Regions from separate parts of the Homo sapiens genome. Here region 2 is linked to region 1. A link means that fine-mapping ties the variant in region 1 to the expression of a gene that starts in the linked region. Tissue or cell type: whole blood. Region 1 holds a variant in brackets; the other region holds the start of a gene. All regions are shown on one strand. Distances are from middle to middle.

The links.
Region 2: ZNF438 starts here. The variant in region 1 is fine-mapped to the expression of ZNF438 in whole blood (TOPMed, PIP above 0.99). The same link has a PIP of 0.9 or more in blood mononuclear cells.

The regions. Positions count from the first base shown.
Region 1 is chr10:30,994,162-31,005,304 of GRCh38, reverse strand. All of the region lies in intron 1 of ZNF438 (zinc finger protein 438), which reads left to right. Among named protein-coding and RNA genes, the nearest start is that of ZNF438, 32 kb to the left of the region's middle. The variant C/T (reference allele first, on the strand shown) is at 4,134.
Region 2 is chr10:31,025,822-31,036,964 of GRCh38, reverse strand. ZNF438 (zinc finger protein 438) reads left to right here and starts at 5,100. Exons shown (of 7, transcript NM_001143768.2): 1 at 5,100-5,132. It overlaps LOC105376481 (a long non-coding RNA gene), which reads right to left and starts at 4,457. Exons shown (of 3, transcript XR_001747410.3): 1 at 1,664-4,457. RefSeq lists a silencer at 4,879-5,438.

The DNA.
Region 1 (11,143 bases):
ACGTGCATGTACATATATATATACACACACACATATGTACACACACATAACTCACAGTTCATTCATCTGTTGACAGACACTTTGGTTGTTTCAATATCTTGGCTATTATTGTTTCTAAATCTTGGCTCATGCTACAGTGAACATGGGAGTGCAAGTATCTTTATGAGATGGTGATTTCATTTCCTTTGGATATCTACCCACTGGAGGAATTGCTGAGTCATATGGTAGTTGTATTTTTAATTTCCTTAGGAACCTCTGTATGGTTTTTCACAGTGGCCGCACTGATCTGCATTCCCACCAACAGTGTATGAGGTTTCTCTTTTTCACACCATCACCAACACTTGTTATCTCTGGTAACTTATTAAAGTAATAATCACATTTGCTTAATAATATCAAGAAATAGGCTATGTTATTATGAAACAGTTAAAAGCATATAGGAAGTTTATTTATTGATGTGGGAAAAGTATTTATGACTCATCATGACTTCCAGCCCCCTCCCCCACATTTCTACTTATCACTTCCTTTCTGTTACCAGTTCCTTCCTTATCCAGCCTAGATGCTTTGATTCAAATTATTTTCCGGCAAATTCTTTCAATTCCTTTGTACCTCTTTGGTCTCTCCAATCTCAGAACTGGATGAGCTCAACTACCTGCCAGTTTTTTCACTTTAATGATACGCTCAGCAGCCTTAAAATTGTCCAGCAGTCTTCCGACGTGTCTATTATCTCACTCCCTCACTCCTCACAGCATACTGCCTTCATTCTTCTCAAACCTTTTAACCCCCTATCAGTGTTATTTGATGTCTTAGCAGTTTTCCATGCAGTTGACCACAATTGACCATTGCTTCCTTTTGGAAACACTTGTCTCTTGGCCTTTGAGACAAACCCTTCCCTGGTTTTCCTTCTCCCATTCTAGTTGACCATTTTCTGTCTTCTGTGTTACCTGACATCTAAAAGAGGAAAGGTTTAGTTCTCTTGTTTTTCATCTTGTACTTTTGGTTAAATATAATCTTTTTGTGTAAGTCTTATTATCTCTAGCCCAGAGTTTGTCATCTTCAGCACTATTGACATTTTGGGCTGGAAAATTTTTTCAGTGTCAGGGGATGTCTTGTGGATTGTAGGATGCTTAGCAGCATCTCTGGCCTCTATGCTCTAACTGCCAATAGAGTTCCCTCTACCCTTATTGTGACAATCAAAATGTCTCCAGATATTGCCAGATGTCTCCTGGGTGCATAAAATCACCCCCCATTGAGAAGTACTTATGTAGCCTGAAGTTCTCTTCTGAGGATCTGGGGATAACACCTTTCTGACATCTCCACTTGAATGTCTCCTAGGCATTGCAAATTTAATGTGACCAAAATGGACTCTTGTTTTTTCTTCCATATATGCTCTCCCCCCAGATTTTCAGATTTTAGATTATTTATGATCTTGCATTGGAGGTACCAATAAAAGCCATTGGAGGCTTTTATTTGGAGTAAACTAGGGAGCCACCAGAGAGTTTTGGGCCAAGAAATGACATGATCTCACGTAGATCAGCTCTTTCTTGAGCATAGACTATGACTTGGAAGACTGAAAGCAGGAAGACCAGTTAAGAGGCTACTGTGGTAATCACAGTGAAAAATGGTAGTAGCTTGTATAAGGATGGTAGTAGGGCATATGATAAGGAGTGGCATCTTTAGTTTAGTGCTTAAACACAAATAGCCCTGAGAAGAATGCACTTGTACCTTCATGAGGTTAGTATCAGAGTATGCTTTGTTTTTCAGATGTTTTCTAAGAACTTGCAGGGAACAGGTTTTGGTGGGTCAGAATGAGAAGACAGTAGCCAAGTTCCTGGGTTCCTCCAAGCCAGAACTTCCTGGGATGTTACTTGAAGGGATTCAGGCCAGAACAGGGTTTTAAAACAAGGGACCCAACGGGAAGAGTAAGCAAGACATCCAATACTACCTGTTCTACCTCACAATCTTACTTAGGGCTGGTCCTCCCACGGTAAAACATGTACTGGGTGGCAGGGTAGATAGAACAATTGGAAGTCAGGAGTGTTTCCTTCATTAAATATAGGAAGCACATCATCTTGGGCTGGAAGGCCCTTAGCTGAAGTGAGGTGGCTATCGGCATTTGGGATGGGACAGGTTTTTGTTGTACAAGATTGCCCTACACATCTCAAGACTTGCAATAGTGTGCTCTCTCATTGTGACATCTAAAAAATGCCTCCCCACATTTCCAGACTCCCCATGGGAGTCAGACGTGTTCACCTGTATACCACTGGACTGAGCCCCCTTTGCTAATTTGAAAACTGCCTTCTGTAATAGGAAGTTAGTCAAAAGGCTATACATTCCAGGCCCTTAAAGAAAACCTGCATTACTTGTTTGGGGACTTAGAAGGTATCTACTAGTACTTTAAATTAGCATCTATGTTTATTGCTGATACATCCCATAAATGTTTTCTGTCCATGTTATGTACCTTAATATACTACTTTGTAATTCTTTTGTAGGGGTCATAGCCATTTCAGGGCCATCTCTAAAGACACTGCAAAGGACACATGCTCTAGCTGCTCTCTTCTCCGTATTGTTATATAAGGGAACCTGAATTAAAATGAATTAAGAGTTTGGATGAAAGGGCATTCCCTAGCCATCTTAGCAAAGGGAGTGGGAGTAGGATTGGAAGAGGGAGGATAATGGCCTGTATGTGAATGTTTATGCACATCATGTTTTTTAAATCAGGTCTAGCTAGTATCAAGAGCTAAATATTTTTTAATCGTATTTTTGAAAAGTAGTAGAAAATAGAACAATATTCAGATTTGTGAAGGATTGATGACTCAGTATTAGAGGGAAAACTCACCAAGGAAAAGATCTAATAGTTTTGAACATATAAAATGTAAGGTTTATTTACAATGAAAAAAATCACACAACACACTGGAGGAAATGCTTGTATCAAATGTGACTAAGGGTGAATATCTATAATATCTGAAGAGGAAGTTCTCTCGAACTTAATGAAGAAGTTTTAATACATAAGTAAACAAAGTATTTTAGCAGTTAATGATTAATAAAAAGGTGGGATTATGTTTACCGTCACTGGTAATCAAAGAAATGCCTTTTAAGTTAACCTTGAGTTATCTCTTCTATTCTTTCGAAAATACTGAAAATTAAAATAACTGACAATTCTGGAGAGGCTTTAAGGAAATGGACCCATTCAGTCTTATGTGTTTCTTGTGCTACTCCCAGCCACTGCCTTTCCCTGAACATGCTGTGCCATTTTAAATTCTTACGTCTCATCTTTATGAGTCCTTCCCCTCTTCTTTCTGTTGACTTTCCATCTCTTGAGAGCAGCATTCAGATCCTGGGGGCATCCCTTCTTACTCAGCCCTGCCAATGAGCACTCTGATTTGCATTCGGCACTGTATTGCAGCCATGGGTGTATGAATCAGTCCCTACCACTTGGCTGGGGAGTTCTTGAGGTTGGGACTGGTCAGGCCCTGCATCAGGGTCTGGTATACAAGTAATTATTCAATAACTATTGAACTAAATTATTGGATTTTGGTGAATGTTTTAATGAACTACAATATGTTAGGGTGATGGAATAACATGATCACTAAAGTGCAATTATAAGTGTAACTTATGGCAAAATTTTGTAACCAAATACAGAATGATATGTTTAGTGTAATTTCAACTGCATTAGAAAGGTAATATGCAGAAAATGAATTTTTAAATATTTTAAAGTTATAGGTAACAAACTTTTATTTCTTTATTACAATCTTTATGATACAATATATAATTTTTAAAATCAGTTGGCACACTTGACCTCCCTCTCTTCTCATCAGAATTAACCTCTCTGTGTCCTGTCCAATTATCTGATTGAACTCTCAGGAAATAGGGTGGGCCTCCCCAGAATGTGGGCTTTTAAGGATAGCTGCATTTATGTGACTGAATTAGGTCCCCAAGCATTTTTTGAGCTTTTACTGTGCCTGGGTGCATATAACTTGAAAGATATGGTACTTAGTATTTTATAGTTTGTAAATACATTCACATTATCAGCGATGAGTTCTACAGCTTTTAATAATGTCAAATATAAATGGTAGTTGTTTTTTTAAAACATTTTTTGAGTATCTACCATCTGCCAATGACTGAAATACAGAATT[C/T]CTTTAAGGAAGTCCTTGTCTGACAGGAAAGACAGACATCCATGGGCCTTTCATACAGCAAGATGAGTGTTGTAATCGTGTTGTAATGAGTGCAATGGGTTGTAGAGTGAATGGAGAAGCAGTTATTTCTTAAGAGGGCTGGTGAGATGAGATGACTGTTCTCTGGTAAGATAACTCTCGAACAGGACTTTAGAAGATGGGCAAGATTTTTGCAAGATGGATAGGAGAAAAGGGGAAAAGCATGAACAGAAAGGTAGAAGTGTAGAAATACATGATGTCTTCAGAAGCCACTAAAAGATTTTGGAGAGGGATATGACATGATTAGGTTTGTATTTGGAAAGAAAATTGAGATCAGTGATTATAACAAGGAAACACAAGAAAAGTTTTTTTTTTTTTTGCATGCTTTTCTATGTGACAATTTTGTGAGCATCCCCAGATTTTAAATTGTAACATAGATAGGACAGGCTTTACATTATGCACAGTTCTGGCCAGCCAACCATATGCCCTCTCATAGCTGTACATCAGAGTGTCCCTTCTAAAAGTCTGGGTGAACAGTGGGCTACAGGAATGAGGTCAGCTAAGAAGCCATTGCAGTGTTCCACATCACCACAGGAAGTGATGGCTTAATCAGGGCCATGATAACAGAAATGGATGGGAGGGAATATATTTGCCTATGTAGACTTGGTATCAGAGTTTTGTGGGGGTAGAGAGAAAAAGGAATTATACATCAGTGTTTCTCAGATTTTAATGTGCATGTGAATTGTCTAGGGATTTTGTTAAAAGGTAGATTTTGATTCAATAGGTCTGGCAGTGGGGCCTCAGATTCTGCTCCCAAGTGATGCCAACACTGTTAGGCCATGGTCCAGTGAATAATTAACAAGGACGAGATAACGTGGGTGTGAGACTCCGCTGGCTAGATGGTGATGTCATTATCTGAAATACCTGAAATGGGGAATACCAGAGAAAAGAAAGCTTGGGCAGGGGGATGGGGTGAAGTTTTTGTGGGACATTCAGGTATAAAAATTGTAGACAGCTGAAAGTTTGGATTCTAAGCTTGAGAGAAAAATCAAGCATAGAGACACAAATTTGGGAATAAGCATTTCGTTGCCGACATAAAAGTCATGAGAATGAGTGACATTACCTACAAAAAAGAGATAAAGTTAATATTAGAAAATATACCTATTCCTTCATCATTCAAAGGCCTCATCTTCTAAAAAGACAAATAAAGAAAATATACCTATTTGCTAAAATTTTAATGTCCATTTAAGTGACTATAAACCAGCAATGGGAAAGAAATTGGATAGGTAGCTTCCTCCCTATGAACAATCTCTAGGTGTAAATTGAGGGGAGGAGAAGTCTTCTTTGGAAACCCCCCCTTTTCCTTGGTAATGACCATAGATCAAGTTAAAAACGATTAAAGTATCTTATGAGAAATCATTCATATAAATAAATATGTGTAAAGAATCGTCAAAATGCCAGGCAGTCTTCTGACCTTAACATTAATAGCAAATGAAATGAATCCCTGAAACAGTGGAGCTTATGGGGGAGATTGACAAATGCTGTGTTAGGAAAGTATAGTGTCATGTGAGAGCACACACATCAGGAACACATGACTCAGTGTGGAGACAAGGGATGGCCTTCCTGAGGAAGTAGCATTAAGCTGAGACCAGAAGGCTGAGTGGTGGTGACCTACAAGAAGAAGAAGGGAAGGTCATAACAGTAATGACTTGGAGTGGAGAGGCCCTGCAGGTTGGAGAAGTTCAGTGTGGCTCACCATGGAGTGTCAGAGTGAGGGAGATGACTGCTGAGCTCCGAGAGGTGAACAGAGCCCCTGGTGAGGCCCACTCCTCTGGGACTTAGTAGAGAGAAGAGGGAGAAAATGATGTATTTTCCCAAGGAAAAACTGTTATTCTACTTTGGTATAGTTCAAACAACAGTCTTATGCATATGGTTTTACAAGGCTTTTATGGACTGGCCTAGTAATGACATGACTCATAGTAATGTTGTTTCTATAGGAAAAATGTTTTGGGCTTCAAAAGCTGTCTTACAATTTAACTTTCAGATTTTTTTTTTTCCATTTGGGAACCGCTTGGATAAGAGCACAATTCTAGTGTTTTTTGTTATTTCTGTTAAAAGTGTGCTTTCTCTGGTATGTATCTATGTGGCTACAGTGTTGATTTTCCGTCTTCTGATATGAATCAAAGCTATCATTGCACAGATGCAGTTGAAATGTTGTTTTATTTTCTTGACCAGATTCAGAAAGTGTATGGAAATAGAGAAATCTTTTTATAAATTGTTTAGTTTTCAAAGTGTTTGTTCTTCAAAGTTAAGGATTCCCTCTGTAAACTATATCATGGTATACTGTGTTATATACCATGAAAGTATGAAAAATGAAACTGCCATGAAAATTGTTATAAACAGAAAGTAAAAGAGATCGGTGTGTTTTCACTATTGAAGTCAAATAGAATGCAGAAGGTAAACAATAAAGGATAAAATACCTAGCTTTAAAAATACTTTAATAACCATGAGCTTATGATCATAATCGTCTTCATTACTAGCTATTGTTATCATTAGTAATACTTGATTTTTTTTTTTTTTTTTTTTTTTTTTTTTTTTTTTTTTTTTTTTTTTGAGACAGTCTCTCTCTGTCACCCAGGCTGGAGTGCAGGGGCGTGATCTCGGCTCACTGCAAGCTCCGCCTCTCGGGTTCACGCCATTCTCCTGCCTCAGCCTCCTGAGTAGCTGGGACTACAGGGGCCCGCCACCATGCCCGGCTAATTTTTTGTATTTTTCTTAGTAGAGACGGGGTTTCACTGTGTTAGCCAGGATGGTCTCAAACTCCTGACCTCATGATCCACCCGCCTCGGCCTCCCAAAGTGCTAGGATTACAGGCATGAGCCACTGCGCCCAGCCAATACTTGATATTTTAAAGCAAGAAACAGCAGCTGTTAAGGTCACTCCCTTTGTAAAATGGATCTATATGAGTTTCATTTTCTTTAATAAATGAAACTTTAGGCTGAAACTCTCAAATTCCCTTATCTCCAACATGCAAAGTTAATTTCATCCACATCTGTCTTGTGAAAGTATCTTTCTTTCTATATCAGTTAGAATGCTTTCAGCTGGTAAGTGACAGAGACCCAACTGAAAGTATCGTATGTAATAACTGCATTTTATTGTCTCATATAACTAGAAATCTGGAAGAAAGATAGTTTTTTTGTTGGCTTATATAGCAGCTAACTCTTATCATCAGACTCTCTGGCTCTGTCTTTTCATTCTACCATCCTGATAAGTTGGCTTTTGTCTTCAGACTTTTCCCCTCCTCATCTCAAGATGGCAGCTTTAACTCCAAGAATGACATACTCATATCAAAGCACCCATGACTGTAAGAAAAGAAGGTGTCTCTCTTATGTCTTTTTTTAAAATGAAGAAAACTTTCTTAGAAGCCTCCTAGAAAACATGACCTCATTAGCTAAAATTGCATCCTATACCCGTTTCTAAGCCAGTCAGTGGTGAGGGGTACGGAAGTCCTGTGTTTGGCTTAGACTAGTCAAGATTCATGGCCCTTCACTCCTCCCAAGGTAAAAAAAAAAAAAAAATAGGATTTTGTTATTCAGAAAGAAGGGAAGACTAGGTAGGCAACCACTAGTGTCTGCCGTATCTTCCAAGGCCAATTTATTTGCCTAGAGCTTTAATTCCTTTCTGCCTCTTAGAAGACTTTGTTAATAATTTCTTTTTGCGTTCATTTTCAGTCTTCTCATTCTTTTTCTTCAGGCTTATTGAAAGAAGAGTCTGCATATGCTGCCTTCATTTTTTTCCCCTCCCATTTATTCCTTAAATTCCTTGCAATCTGGATTTTGTTCCTCCTAATAAGAACCTTCCTTTCTATCAACAGCAATAACCACCTGATTCCCAAATCCTTTGCCAGTGTCTTTGTTTTCTGGATTTTCCATTCTCTGTTTCATTTGTTTGTACATTATTCTTTATTATTTCCTTCCGTCTGCTTGCTTAGGTTTAGTTTGCTTTTCTTTTTGTAGGTTCTGTCTTAAGGTGGAAGATTAGATTATCCACTTGAGATCTTTCTTTTTTAATATAGGCATTTATAGCTACAAATGTCTTTCTGGGTATTATTTTCTTTAGCTGTATCCAATAAATTTTGGTATGTTGAGTTTTAGTTCTCACTAATCTCAAGGTATTTTCTAATTTTCTCTCTGATTTCTTTGACCCATTGGTTATTTAGGAGTGTGGTTCCCTCCCATCTTTGTGAATTTCCTAAAATTCCTTCTGTTACTGATTTGTATTCTAATTGCATGCCATTGTTTCAGAGAACATTCTTTGTGTGATTAATCTCTTTAAATTATTGAAGGTTGTTTATGGCCTAGCATGTGGTCTCTTTTGGAAAATGTTTCATGTGCACTTAATAATGCATATTGCCTTGTTGAGTGGAGTGTTATATAGTTGTCTGTAGGTCTGGCTGTCTTACAGTGTTGTTCAAATCTTCTGTATTCTTGTTGATTTTCTTCCTGGTGGTTTTATCTAGTATTGAAAGAGGGAAGTCTCCAATTATTATTTTTCAATTGTGTATCCCTTCAACTGTCTTTTCTTCCTTCTCTTGTTAAGTGCATATATGCTTCTAATTGTTATACCTTCCTGATGGATTGACCCTTCTGTCATTATGAAGTGTTTCTCTTTATTTCTAGTATTATATTCTTGCTTTAAAATGTATTTTGCCTGATTCTTTTATGTTTACTGTTTGTATGGTATAGCTTTTACTTTCAACCTATTTGTATGATTGAACCTAAAATGTGTCTTCTGTAGATTTTATATAGTTGGGATCTTTGTTCTTTTTCTTTTATAAAAATACAGCCTGATAATCTTTCTTTTGATTAGATTGCTTCATCTGTTCACATTTAATGTGATTACTGATATAGTTGGATTTTTGTCTGCAGTTACGAATTTTGTTTTCTATAGGTCTCAGGTCTTTTTTGTTCTTTCCTTTCTTGCCTTCTTTTGAATTAAGTAGATATATTGTAGTGTGATGCTTTAATTCCTTTGCTACTTTTAAAAATATATATTTTGAGTTATTTTCTTAGTGGTTGCTCCAGGGTTTACAGTGTACATCCCGATTTATAAGAATTTCACTTCTGATTTATACTTACTTTCAGCAAAATAGACTTCCTCTGTTAGCTCCATTTCCTTCCCCAACTTTTTCTGCTATTATTGATGTACCTATTATGTCAAACCCAACAACACACTGTTGTAATTTTTACTTTATGTCTTTTGAAGAAGCTGAGACAAGGGAGAGCAAGTACGTATTTATAGTTAGTTGTATTGACCTCTCTATTTTTTATTTTCTTTACATATTTCTGCATATTTGAGTTAGCTCTGGGGTCATTTTCTTACTCCCGAAGAACTTTGTTCTCACCTGCTTCTTTTGTGCTGTTATTGTCTAAATGTATAGCAGTAAATGTTGTTAGCCCAATAATTAAATTATAGCTACAGTGTTTTATTGAATTATTCTTTAAATCAGTTAAGAGAAGAAAGGGGAAGAAATATGCAATTACAGTGTCTTTTGCAATAATGTACGTAATTTCCTTTACTGGCATGCTTTGTTTTTTGGGGCTTCCAATTACTGTTTGGTGTTACTTGCTTTTAGCCTGAAGAATTTCCTTTAGTATTTCTTGTGAAACAGATATTCTAGCAACAAATTTTCTGTCTTTATTTTTCTGGGGATGCCTTAATTTGACCTTTATTTTAAAAACACAGTATTGCTGGATATTAGAGTCATAATTCACAGTATTTTACTTTAGTACTTTGAATATTTAATTCCATTGCTTTCTGGCCTCCCTTGTTTCTAATGAGAAGTCAGCTGTTAATCGTATTGGGGGCTGCTTTGTACTTGTCTGGTCATTTTGCTCTTGCTGCTTTCAAGATTTTCTCCTTGTCTTTGGCTCTCAAGATTTTGCCTGTAATGTGTCTGGAAGTATATCTCTTTGTATTTATCCTATTTAGAATTTGTTGAGCTCCTTGGGGGATGTGTAGATTCATATTTCTTTTTCTTTTATCAAATTTGGAAAGATTTCAACCATTATTTATTTATTTTTTGTTCTTTTTCATTCATTTTTTTTTTTCCTCTCTCTGAGATAGGGTCTCACTCTCTCACCCAGGCTGGAGTATAGTGGCATGATCTCAGCTCACTGCAGGCTCTACCTCACTGCAGGCTTAAGCAGTCCTCCCACCTCAGCCTCCTGAGTAGCTGGAACTACAGGTGTGTTTCACCCTGCCTGGTTAATTTTTAATATTTTTTATAGAGACAGGGTCTCACCATGTTTCCTAGGCTGGTATCAAATTCCTGGGCTCAAGCAATCCTCCCACCTCGGCCTCCCAAGATGCTGGAGGTACAGATGTGAGCCGCCATGCCTAGCCTCATTATTTCTTTAAGTATTATTTCTGCCTCTTTTTTCTCCTAATGGCATCTGTTTTAGTCCATTTTCTGTTACTGTAACAGAATACCAAAGACCAATACCAATAAGGAAAAGAAATTTATTTCTTATGGTTCTGGAAGCTGAGAAGTCCAAGAGCATGGTGCGAGCCTCTGGTGAGGGCCTTCTTGCTGGTGGGAATTCTCTACAGAGTCCCAAGGTGGCACAGAGCATCACATGCTGAGAGGGCACATGAGTGAGAACAAAACTGGATTTTATAAACAGATGCACTCTTGTGATAGCTAGCCTACCTGCGTGATAACCCATTAATCCAGTAACTTATTAATCTACTAATCCATTCATGAGAGCAGAACCCTCATGACCCAGTCACCTCTTAAAAGTACTACTTCTCAATACTTCTGCATTCAGGACCAAGTTTCCAATACGGTGAACCTTTGGAGAACACATTTAAACCATAGCATTCCACCCTGGGCACCCAAAATTTATGTCCTTCTGGTGTTTAAGAATACATTCATTCCATCCCAGTAGCTCCAGAGTCTTCATTCATTCTATCATGCATTCAAAAGCCCA
Region 2 (11,143 bases), 32 kb before region 1:
TCAACCTTCCTAGGTTCAAGTGATCCTCCTGCCTCCACCTTCCAAGTAACTGGAACCACAGGTGCACACCATCATGCCCGGCTAATTTTTGTATTTTTTGTAGAGATGGGGTTTGCCCAGGCTGGTCTTGAACTCCCGGTCTCAAGCTATCTGCCTGCCTAGGACTCTCAAAGTGCTGGGATTACAGGCATGATCACCGTGCCTGGCCAGAAATCTTTTTGGTATCTTTTCTCCTGTACCTTCTTCCCTGTTCTCCAATCCCAATACACGCACAAGGACAGTTTGGTTCTTTCCGTTTTACAGTCAGAAGCATGCTCCAGGCCCTGTACTCAAATCAAGAACTGGGCTTCTCAGAACAAGGACACAGGTTCCTTGTCTTTCCATTTCCCTCCTCGCTTCCCTCCACCCCTTCTTGTTGGGGACAGCCTTTGTCTAACATCCTTTGTTTAAGAGAATTAATTGCTATCCCCCAGTGGCTGTCAGTGTCTTTCAGGAGACCTCATGTAAATAAGGCTCCAGGTGGCCTGCTCTGATTTCCGAGTTACCAGAGGGATAACATCCTGTTAGGACATTCATCAAGGATAACATTTAGTGAGGCCCAGAGCAGTGACTCATGCCTGTAATCCCAGCACTCTGGGAGGCCCAGGCGAGAGGATTGCTTGAGGCTAGGAGTTCGAGACCAGTCTGGGAAACACAGCCAGATGTCATCTCTATGAAAAGTAAAAATAACCAGATGTGGTTGTGCATGCCTGCAGTCCCAGCTACTCAGGAGGTTGAGGTGGGAGAATCCCTTGAGCCTAGGAGTTCAAGGTTATAGTGAGCTATGGTCTTTCCATTGTACTCCAGCCTGGGCAAGAGCCTGTCTCAAAAATAAATAAGTAATATTTAGTAAGTCTAACCCCATTTGAGGCTTGCAGAAGTTACTGGACTTGCCATAAAGTACCCAGTTAATAACAGAGCTGGCCCTGTTCAGTGCTTTACTATGTTATGCTGCATTGCCATTCAAAATGACTTGTCTCCTAAAGGAATTTTCTCATCAGAATTATTTCTATTGACAGTATCCCCTTTTTAGAAAATAACTAGCATCTTGAGTAAGAAAGCTACCCAGTCTTTGAATTCGAGTTCATCCATCCATTCACCACGCATTCCTCTACACATATTAACTGATAATCTATTTGGGATACTACATGTAGAGGATTCGAGGTTAAGACTCACATTTCCCCTATTCTCACAGAGCTTACAGTCTAGGAGAAGAAGCAATTAAAATAATTTGCAATGCAGAGAGCCAAAGCTGCTTAGGGAAGGCTTCTCAGAGTCAGTTCCTGCAAAGTAGAGACCTAAAGGATTGGGGAGAATTAGCTAAGTAAAATGATGAGGGAAGGGAGGTGATAAAATGAGATGAAATACTGTGCAAACTGTGTAACTGCAGACTTGTAAGACTGTTATTAAACAGACATCCCTCCAGAGCTCTCCAATCTCTGTCCCAGGTCTTCTTCCAGCAAAGTCTCTATCTCTGCTCCTTTGGCAGAATAAGCCCCCTTTTAACCTGTGTAACTCTTGTTTTATAGATGGTTATTTTGTTGTTATTAGTATATTCTTGGGTTTGAGTTGGAGACAAGGGCCTATCTCTAATCAGGAGTGACCTGATTTTTATGTCAATTACCTGGGAAGAGATCATCAAACCAGATCCTGGGACTTAAGAGAGGAATGTAAGGGGATTGCAGAATGGGATTTTGTTTCCCTTGGTCTTGATCCTGAAGGATAAATGATGCATGTTAGTTAGGCAAGGCGTGGTTATAATAGTGTTTTTCAAATTTTTTTTGATTGAAATCCATAGTATGAAATACATTTAACGTTGCAACCCAGAATACACACATGTGGCTGAAAGTTTCCCCTAATTTGTGTTGGGAAAAAAATACCCTTATTACATGTGATACAATCTGATATTTTGTATTTTGGATTCTGATTAGTGTTTTTCTGAGTAGCTACCCTTTAACCGATCACAAAATCAACTTACTGGGTCATGATGACCACCTTAAAAAATCAAATAAAAGCAGTCATGCAAAGATGGGATGGAAAACAGTGAAGAAGATACCCATACACTGTGGTCAGTATTTTAGAGCTAAGTCCATATTTTGGACTTCCTAAGTCCCTCTGTTTCTTGCATAATTTGTGCCTGGTTGTATGAAACTTGAGACAGATTAGTGGTTATGGCTGTGGGTTCTGAAGTATGAAGTCTGGAATCTTGACTGTGTTACTCAGCAGCTGTGTGACATGGGCACTTAACCTACTTACCTTGTGTTTAAAATGGGGATAGTAACAGTTCTTATCTAGTTGCAAGAATTCAAGGAAATAATGCAATGCTTGGCACAGAATCAATACTCAGGAAATATTAGGAATTATATTTCTTTCACTTTTATTTTCCCCATACATTAAGTACTCTGTTTTGTCTTAATTCAGCTTTTCTTAGCTTGCTAAGCAGGACCAAGGGAAGAGATGTGTGTATTGACATAGAGGGCTCTGGAAGCCAGATTGCTATGGGCAGCAGATATCAAAGAGAAAGAATCACAAGGGGGAACTGAAAGCCCAAGGGCCATAGTGGAGGGCCTCAGTGCTTCCAGTGCTAAACCTCCAAGGTCCAGGGTTTTATTTTCTTTAAAAAAGCAGATCCTCTCTTTAATAACAACACTTTTGGCCCTAGCTTCTCACTTCCTGTCTAGGTCAAATTCCAGTTTGTTACAGAAAGTTGACTGAACGTGAGTGGTATTTTCCCACAAATTTCTACTTGACATTCCTTGAGACTGTGATCCTTGCTTGGGTACCTTTACTGTTGGCCATCTTTTGTTCACTGCGTTTACTTTTTTCCTGCATCTAGCAAAACAACGACTTTTTTTTTTGAATACCTGAGATTTCAAGAGAAAGTATACTGAACAATACGATGAGAAGACTATATTCTACAATGCCATCTTTCAGAGGCAAAAGTATCTATAGTAAAAACATTTGATACATTTGGTGTATGCTTCTTACCCATTTCCACTCCAAAAAATAACAGATGACATGTACCTGTGAAACACTCCCATAAGGTATACCTAGAAACTCACTTAAAAAAATTACGATTTTTAGAAATGATATATATAAAACATTTTATAAGCATGTAAACTATTAACAATTTAAAGGTTTCTTAAAATTGTTTTGCAAGGAAAAACATAAATATCACTGTTTTAAAAATATGCAGGACTTTAAAAAATGTTAATTTTTCTATACCTCTGCTCTACAGAAAAACCTTATTGTTACAATTATGGTACAGCCTTTACAAATTTCTTTTACATCATTTGATAATAACTAATATTCAGATAAAATATACAAATATTTTTTCAAATCAGAACATTTAAAAACACTGACGTAGATTTTTCTGGAATAATAAACGTTTTTATTTTTAACCAGCTCAGATCTCGAATTAAAGCCTAATATTCCCATCATCACTCTTTCCTGTAAAAATAAGACAGCACTTTCAATGAGAGTGGAAATAAACCATTGTTTCAGGTTTTACTTACAACTGGAGCTGCCTTGCAAAATCCCTGCCCTGGCCATCTGCCGTGGTTCCAAATAAGTTTGTAAAAGTGAATCTTGCCATTTTCAATACTTCCTCCTTTGGGTCTATTTATTCCGAAGTCTGTTTTTCTCATTCTTTTAATTTTTTTCCCCCCAAGACGGATTTGTCTGAGACACTTTTTTGCCATAACATTTGTTTTTTCTGCTTACGAGAGTGTAAGAATTCCACAAGCCAAATGTTAATATTTTGTTGTCAGTTCTTTAAGCCTTCATTTTTTCCGTCTATCGAGCCCTTTTTTTTAACCAGAACTCATTGCTTCTGAGAGTATAAAAGAGCAAAGAGGCCGGGCGCGGCGGCTCACACCTGTAATCCCAGCACCTTGAGAGGCCGAGGCGGGCGGATCACGAGGTCAAGAGATGGAGACCATCCTGGCCAACATGGTGAAACCCTGTCTCTACTAAAACATAAAAATTAGCCGGCTGTGGTGGCGCGCGCCTGTAATCCCAGCTACTCAGGAGGCTGAGGCAAGAAAATCGTTTGAACCCGGGAGGCAGGGGGTACTGTGAGTTGAGATCGCGCCACTGCACTCCAGCCTGGGAGACAGAGAAACACTCTGTCTCAAAAAAAAAAAAAAAAAAAAGTGGGGAGCAGAGAGCCGGACTTGGACACGGGAAGGTATCGTGACATGAGTGGGTCGGGGGCTGGAAAGTTTGCCCAGGCGAAGAAGTGAACATGTTTATCCGGATCACCGTTTGTTAAATGAACAGCAACCCATAGGTAGCTTCACCGAGCCGAAACGGGAAAGGCGGCAGGCAAGGGAGAAGCTAAAATCTGCAAGAAACGGGCTGGGCTGGAGGCGGCGCCAGGGCAAGAAGGGCAGGTGGGGGCCCGCGGGAGCCGGGAGCCAGGGGCGGGAGCCGGAAGGGCGGGACCCAGGGGCAAGGCCTAAGTGGGCGTGGGAGGGGCATAGTCAAGAGATGGGCGGGGACTGCTCGGGGTCTGGGCGGAGTCTAGCGGGAGCCGCGTCGAGCCGGGGAGGAGCGAGGGACCCTGGGAGAGCTGTCTTTTCAGGGCTGAGGACCCGCCAGCACCTGATGGAGAGCAAATGGCTGTTTCCACACGTGGAGAACTTTTAACGAACACGTGAGGAAGGCGGGCAATGTCTGTGGAAAAACTACCTCACAACCCAGGCGTCTTACTCCAGCCCCCAGGGCGACAGCTTGTTTACAGTATTTCTGAAGGTCTCCGTCCCCTTTTGTCGGCCCCTCCTCCTCCTCTAACCCCGACTTCAGGCTTTGAGTGAGGCTTTGGTAGAGCAGTCGCCGCCGCAGGCGCCCCGGTCGGCGAAGCCCACAGGCATGCGGGCGCAGAGGCCGTCTGCGCCTGCGCGGGGTGTCTGCTACGGGGAGGTGCGTGGAGCTCGAGGGCGTGGAGCTCGGGGGCGTGTCTCCCGCCGCGGCGCCGGGGCGGGGCGAGGGCGGAGCCTGGGGGCCCAGCGGCCCGCGCCCCGTGGCTTGACCTCCCCGACTGCTGGGCCCGTGACGTCACCCCGCTGTGACGCGCACGCTGTAGGAAAACTGTAAGTTTACGAGGATTCCTGCAGCTCCTAGGGCTTGCGGGGCCCGCTGGCAGCTGGCAGTCCCGGCGGTGGTGGTGGCTCTGGGGGCGTCAGTTCCTTGGGGAGTCGCCGATTGTGGCGAAGGGACAGGTGTCTGCTCAGAGTGGCAGCGCGCCCTGCTGGGCGGTAGGGACCTGGGGTGCGGGAGGCGAGGCCGCGCCCCGTGGGGCCGGGCCAGCACCTTTTCCCCTGGGGCGGGGCGCGTCTCCGAGCCTGGGAGCGAGGCCTTAGAAGGGGCGGAAAGTCCAAATGGAGAGTCCCTTTTTTTCTTCCGTGATAAAGGGACTTAGATTCCTTTTCTTCCCCCTCTCAGCCTTGGAGTTTGACATGTTAAGTAGGGGATGGAAGCTTCCTCTCAGAGAATAGGAATCCTATGTCCTGGCCGTTGGGATCCCACAAGTGACCAAGTCATCGTGGACACATTTATAAGATAACCAGTTGCTGCCTCAGTTTTCTTTTTTGTGTAAAAGGGAGGTACAGCAGCCTCTGGCCTCCCTAATGGTTGTTCCCACAGCACTAGGAACACGTGAGATAACACAAGTGTGTAAATTTGCTAGGAGAAAGCTTATACACAGACACTTGGTTATTCTGAGGAATGTGGTAGCCACTGGCTATTTGACCAGGAATCTTGTAGAAGGGGAACTTTTTCACTGTTTTGCCTCCCCCCGACAACCTTCCCTCCATCTGATTCTATACCACACTGGAGCCTGTTGGGTGATCGAACTGTTGTCACTAAACTTGATAGAATGGGGATCCCAAGAAATAACAGGTATCGTTAGCACGGTACTCTTGGCAATTACAATGCCCCCGTTGTCTGGGTTTTGCAGAGGAAGCTTTCAGTGTGCTGGAACTAGCACATTATAGACAACACAGACTCACTGAGTTTTAAGGATTGCTGTATCGATTTGGAATATCCAATCATCGTATCTGACTGCTTGAATATTTTGGTCAAGGGGTACTACATTATCGATTAGTTATTACTAGACTATAATGCCTCTCAAACTCCGGGACTAGTAGTCTTCAGGAACTTTGAAGGGAAGAATACTGTGCACACTTCAGGGTGTATTTATACAGGAGCTCGAGAGTTCACATTTCTGTAAATTCATTTCAGGAGTGTGATATCTTTTCATCCAGGTAGGAAGAGCCTTTGAATCAGAAAGCAGGGCTTCTAATTTTTGTTCTATTCGTTAACTAGCTTCGTGTCCAAGGACAAGTCACGCAAACTTGGAACTTTGTTTTTCTTATCTAAAATGAGAGCCGATGGTTTATCTGTTTGTTGGTTTTTCCAGGATCAAATGAGATCACGAGAGTGCAAATGAAAGGCTAAGTGTGCTATTGTTATTAGGAGATTCGCATTGGTCCCCTAGCCTGGATGAGATGTGAGTCAGAAATCTCTGGAAATAGAGCAGCAAAGAAGACAGCCTCCAACCTAGCAGGGCTCATATTGCAGTGGGAAATAGACAACGAACAATACGTGCATAATGTAATTTCAGGTAGTCATAAGTGCAGTGAAGGGAAGGAAGAAAGGAGGACAGTGGGGGAACAGGGAAGGTTGTTTTTGGTGGGATCTGTCAGGAAAAGCCATTCAAAGGCAGGGACACTTGAAGTGTGAGGGAAAGAGCCTGAGGTAAGAACATTTCAGAGAGGAATAATTAATAGCAATGAACACTTAAAAAAAGTAGAGCTTACCATATGTAAGGCACTATTCTGAACACTAAATTAAATTTTTACAAGTCTTTTGATGTAACCTAGTATCTCCCTTTCATAGATGAGGCAACTGACACACAGAAAGGTTAAGAATTTGCCAAAGTTGCACAGCTAAAACGTGGTAGAGACTATTTGAACGTGGGCAGTCTGACTTCAGAGTCCAGGCTCCAGGTGACTGTATTTTCGGCCTCACAGCAGGAACAGCACAGGACAATGCTCTGAGGTGGTCCAGACACAGTGAGAGTGTTTAGAGCACAGCCGGGAACGGGGAAAGTAGTGGCCAATGATGGTCAAGGGCCAGGCAGGCCGTGGGGTCCCTTGTAGGCTGTGGTGAAGTAAAGATGTTGTTCTAACTGTGATGGAAAACCATTGGAAGGTTTGCATCAAGGGACTGGTGTCTGATTTAAGTTTTATTGTATGGAGAATTAACTGTAGATTAGAGTGGGTCGGATGGAGTGAAAATCGGGAGAAAGCTGCTGTGCCCTGCAGGTGAAATGATGGTGGTTTGGGCTGGGGGAGGTTAGTTGTGGAGATGATGGTAGGCGGTAGAATTGGTGATACGTTTTGAAGGTAGAGCTGACGGGAAACGAGCTGATGTGGAATTTGAAGAAAAGGGAGAAGTGATGATTTTTTAGGTTTAGGCTGGAACAACTAGAAGTATAGTGGTGCTGTTTACTGAGGAAAATTACAAATTTAGTTTTGCACAAGTTCTAAATGCCTGTTAGACATAGTCATAACAACAGTGCTAGTAAAAATAGTATTATGTAAGCGTAAACTGAGTCCCAGGCAGGGTTTTAAGTACTTTAACCTATATTAATTCATTTAATCATCATAAGAATTATATGTGCAAGGAACCATTATTGTCCCCATTTTACAGCACGAGAAAATAGAGGCAAAAAGAGGTTATAAGTGACTTGTCTGAAGTCACCCAGCTGGTGAGTGATGTAGCTAGGATTCAAACCTAAGCATTGTGGCTTTGGAGTCCATGCATTGAATCCCTGTAACCACCTCCGAGTGAACATGTTGAGTATGCATGCCTGTGAATATGGAACTCAGGGGAGTGGTCAGGGTTGGAGATACCCATTTATTTTTCTGAAGAGAAAGCATGCTTTTGTTTTTCATCTAAGCTTTGGTTGTCTGTGGGAGAAAGATTATAGGCAGTGGGACTGTGCTAACTGGTCTTTGATTACGACCTGACTGGGTTCATGCAGCCAGTATCTGGTATTCCCCACTGTAGGTTCCGTAGGGGCAAGGTCTGTCTCTTTGACTTCTCTATCTCTAGTCCCTAATCCAGTGCCTGCTGTGTAGTAGATGTTAGGGATGACTTTATATAATGGGCATTTGGTTAGGTTTTGGAAGTTCAGAGATGAATAAAACAGTTCTTTACCTTAGAGGAGCAGGGTATGAGGAAAAACCTGTGGGAATAAAATTAGAGTAGACTAAATGCATAAATACATGCCGATTAGTTCATTTGGGTTTTCTGCACCCTCCCCTCCCCAGCTTCCATGACTTGTGAGATGGGGCATGAAAAGGGCAAAGGGGCAAAAGAATGCCTAAGCTGTTGCAGGATGAAGTTGAGGCTCCCCAAGAGTCCTTTTCAACAAAAGAATTACTCAAAATCATGCATATTTTACTATATTTGCATTAGCTTTATTTGGCAATGATAGAATTTTTACCAAATGAAATAAATTCTGATATTTGACTGTCCTTTTGAAGTGATGAGTTTTTCCAGTTCTATTACCTCAGTGTTGACAGGGCTCACCAGAGAAATAAGGGAGTTGGCTTGAAATGTTGCAGCTTGCATAATAGAGGGTGATGGAGGGGTTGGGTGAAGTATTCAGGCAGGTTTCCACCGGTTTAAGTGTGTCATGCCAAAGTTCCACCTATTGGAATAAGTTTGAGTTTCTTTGCTGACCATCTCTAACATTGACATGTATTTTTTTTTTGTCATAGAAAGGGGATCTGGTGATATATATTGTAGGTGGAATTGCAGATTACATCTCGTATAGCTGGATCATTGTAGAACATGGAGACTAGAAAAATACAAACAAAAAAAGATGTGTCTTGTTCCCGTAGATCTTTCATGGCATACCATAACCTCAACAGTTGTCACAATTTTGTTACTTCCTAACATGAGTATTTCAAATTTAAACCATGTAAGAATTATATAAAATTGCACTGCCGTAGATTTTATGGTTAATTTCAGAATTTTTAAAAATATATAAAATTATATTTTGTTTTAAGCTTTCATTGGGAAAGTATCTAAATAACCAGATCTATGATTACTCTAAACAGAAGCCCTCTACTAACGTAAATGTAGAGGGGTGCCATCTCATTTTGCAGTTCACAACGTTTTAAATCTGCTCTTGTAGCTTCCCTACATTTAATGGAGTTGAAATGATTAGTCTTTATTTACACCACATTTGCAGTTAGTTTCCCAGGAACATCAGATACCCATATATGGTATAAAGTAAAATTGCATAGTCAATAGCCTATTGATGCTCAGGTGTTATTGACTTTTAAGTTCAGGCACAGTGAGGGCAGGTTGATGGTTATTTAATTGTGTCAGGTAGCTCCCAGCAGAGGGGGAGTGATGGTAAGTTCTATCTGAAAACAACAGGACCCTCTGTTTCTAACACTGACCATGCGAAATATAACATCCTAGATAGTAAATAAAATTCAGATTCCTTTTAAAATTTACATTTGCACAAGCAAATTTTAAACTATTTTATGAGTACTTTTATATATATGAAGATTTATTGTTGAAAACAGTGTGTCTAGCCCAGTGATAGTACATACTGAGCATTTAAATATAATTCTTTTTTTAATTAAATTTATTTTTTAAATTATACTTTAAGTTCTAGGGTACATGAGCACAACATGCAGGTTTGTTACATATGTATACATGTCCCATGTTGGTGTGCTGCACCCATTAACTCGTCATTTACATTAGGTATGTCTCCTAATGCTATCCCTTCCCCCTCCCCCGACCCCACGACAGGCACTGGTATGTGATGGTCCCCACCCTGTGTCCAAGTGTTCTCATTGTTCAATTCCCACCTGTGAGTGAGAACATGTGGTGTGTGGTTTTCTGTCCTTGTGAAAGTTTGCTCAGAATGATGGTTTCCAGCTTCATCCATGTCTCTACAAAGGACATGAACTCATCCTTTTTTTATGGCTGCATAGTATTCCATGGTGTATATGTGCCACATTTTCTTAATCCAGTCTATCATTGATGGACATTTGGGTTGGTTCCAAGTCTTTGCTATTGTGAATAGTGCCACAATAAACATACGTGTGCATGTCTCTTTATGGCAGCATGATTTATAGTCCTTTGGGTATATACCCAGTCATGGGATGGCTGGGCCAAATGGTATTTCTAGTTCTAGATCCTTGAGGAATCGCCACACTGTCTTCCACAGTGTTTGAACTAGTTTACAGTCCCACCAACAATGTAAAAGTGTTCCTATTTCTCCACATCCTCTCCAGCACCTGTTGTTTCCTGACTTTTTAATGATCGCCAATCTAACTGGTGTGAAATGGTATCTCATTGTGGTTTTGATTTGCATTTCTCTGATGGCCAGTGATGATGAGCATTTTTTCATGTGTCTGTTGGCTGCATAAATGTCTTCTTTTGAGAAGTGTCTGTTCATATCCTTTGCACACTTGTTGATGGGGTTGTTTGATTTTTTCTTGTAAATTTGTTTAAGTTCTTTGTAGATTGTGGATATTAGCCCTTTGTCAGATGGGTAGATTGCAAAAATTTTCTCCCATTCTGTAGGTTGCCTGTTCACTCTTTATGGTAGTTTCTTTTGCTGTGCAGAAGCTCTTTAGTTTAATTAGATCCCATTTGTCAGTTTTGGCTTTTGTTGCCATTGCTTTTGGTGTTTTAGACATGAAGTCCTTGCCCATGCCTATGTCCTGAATGGTATTGCCTAGGTTTTCTTCCAGGGTTTTTATGGTTTTAGGTCTAACATGTAAGTCTTTAATCCATCTTGAATTAATTTTGGTATAAAGTGTAAGGAAGGAATCCAGTTTCAGCTTTCTCAATATGGCTAGCCAGTTTTCCCAGCACCGTTTATTAAATAGGGAATCCTTTCCCCATTTCTTGTTTTTGTCAAAATTCTACTTCTTGCAATCACTTTTATTTTTGCATTATTATCTTCAACTCATATATATTTGTAGTAGTAGCTGGATGCTTGTTTGTGTACTTTACACTCTAAATGTTTGAATATATTTAAATAATTTATATAAGTAGCACTTAT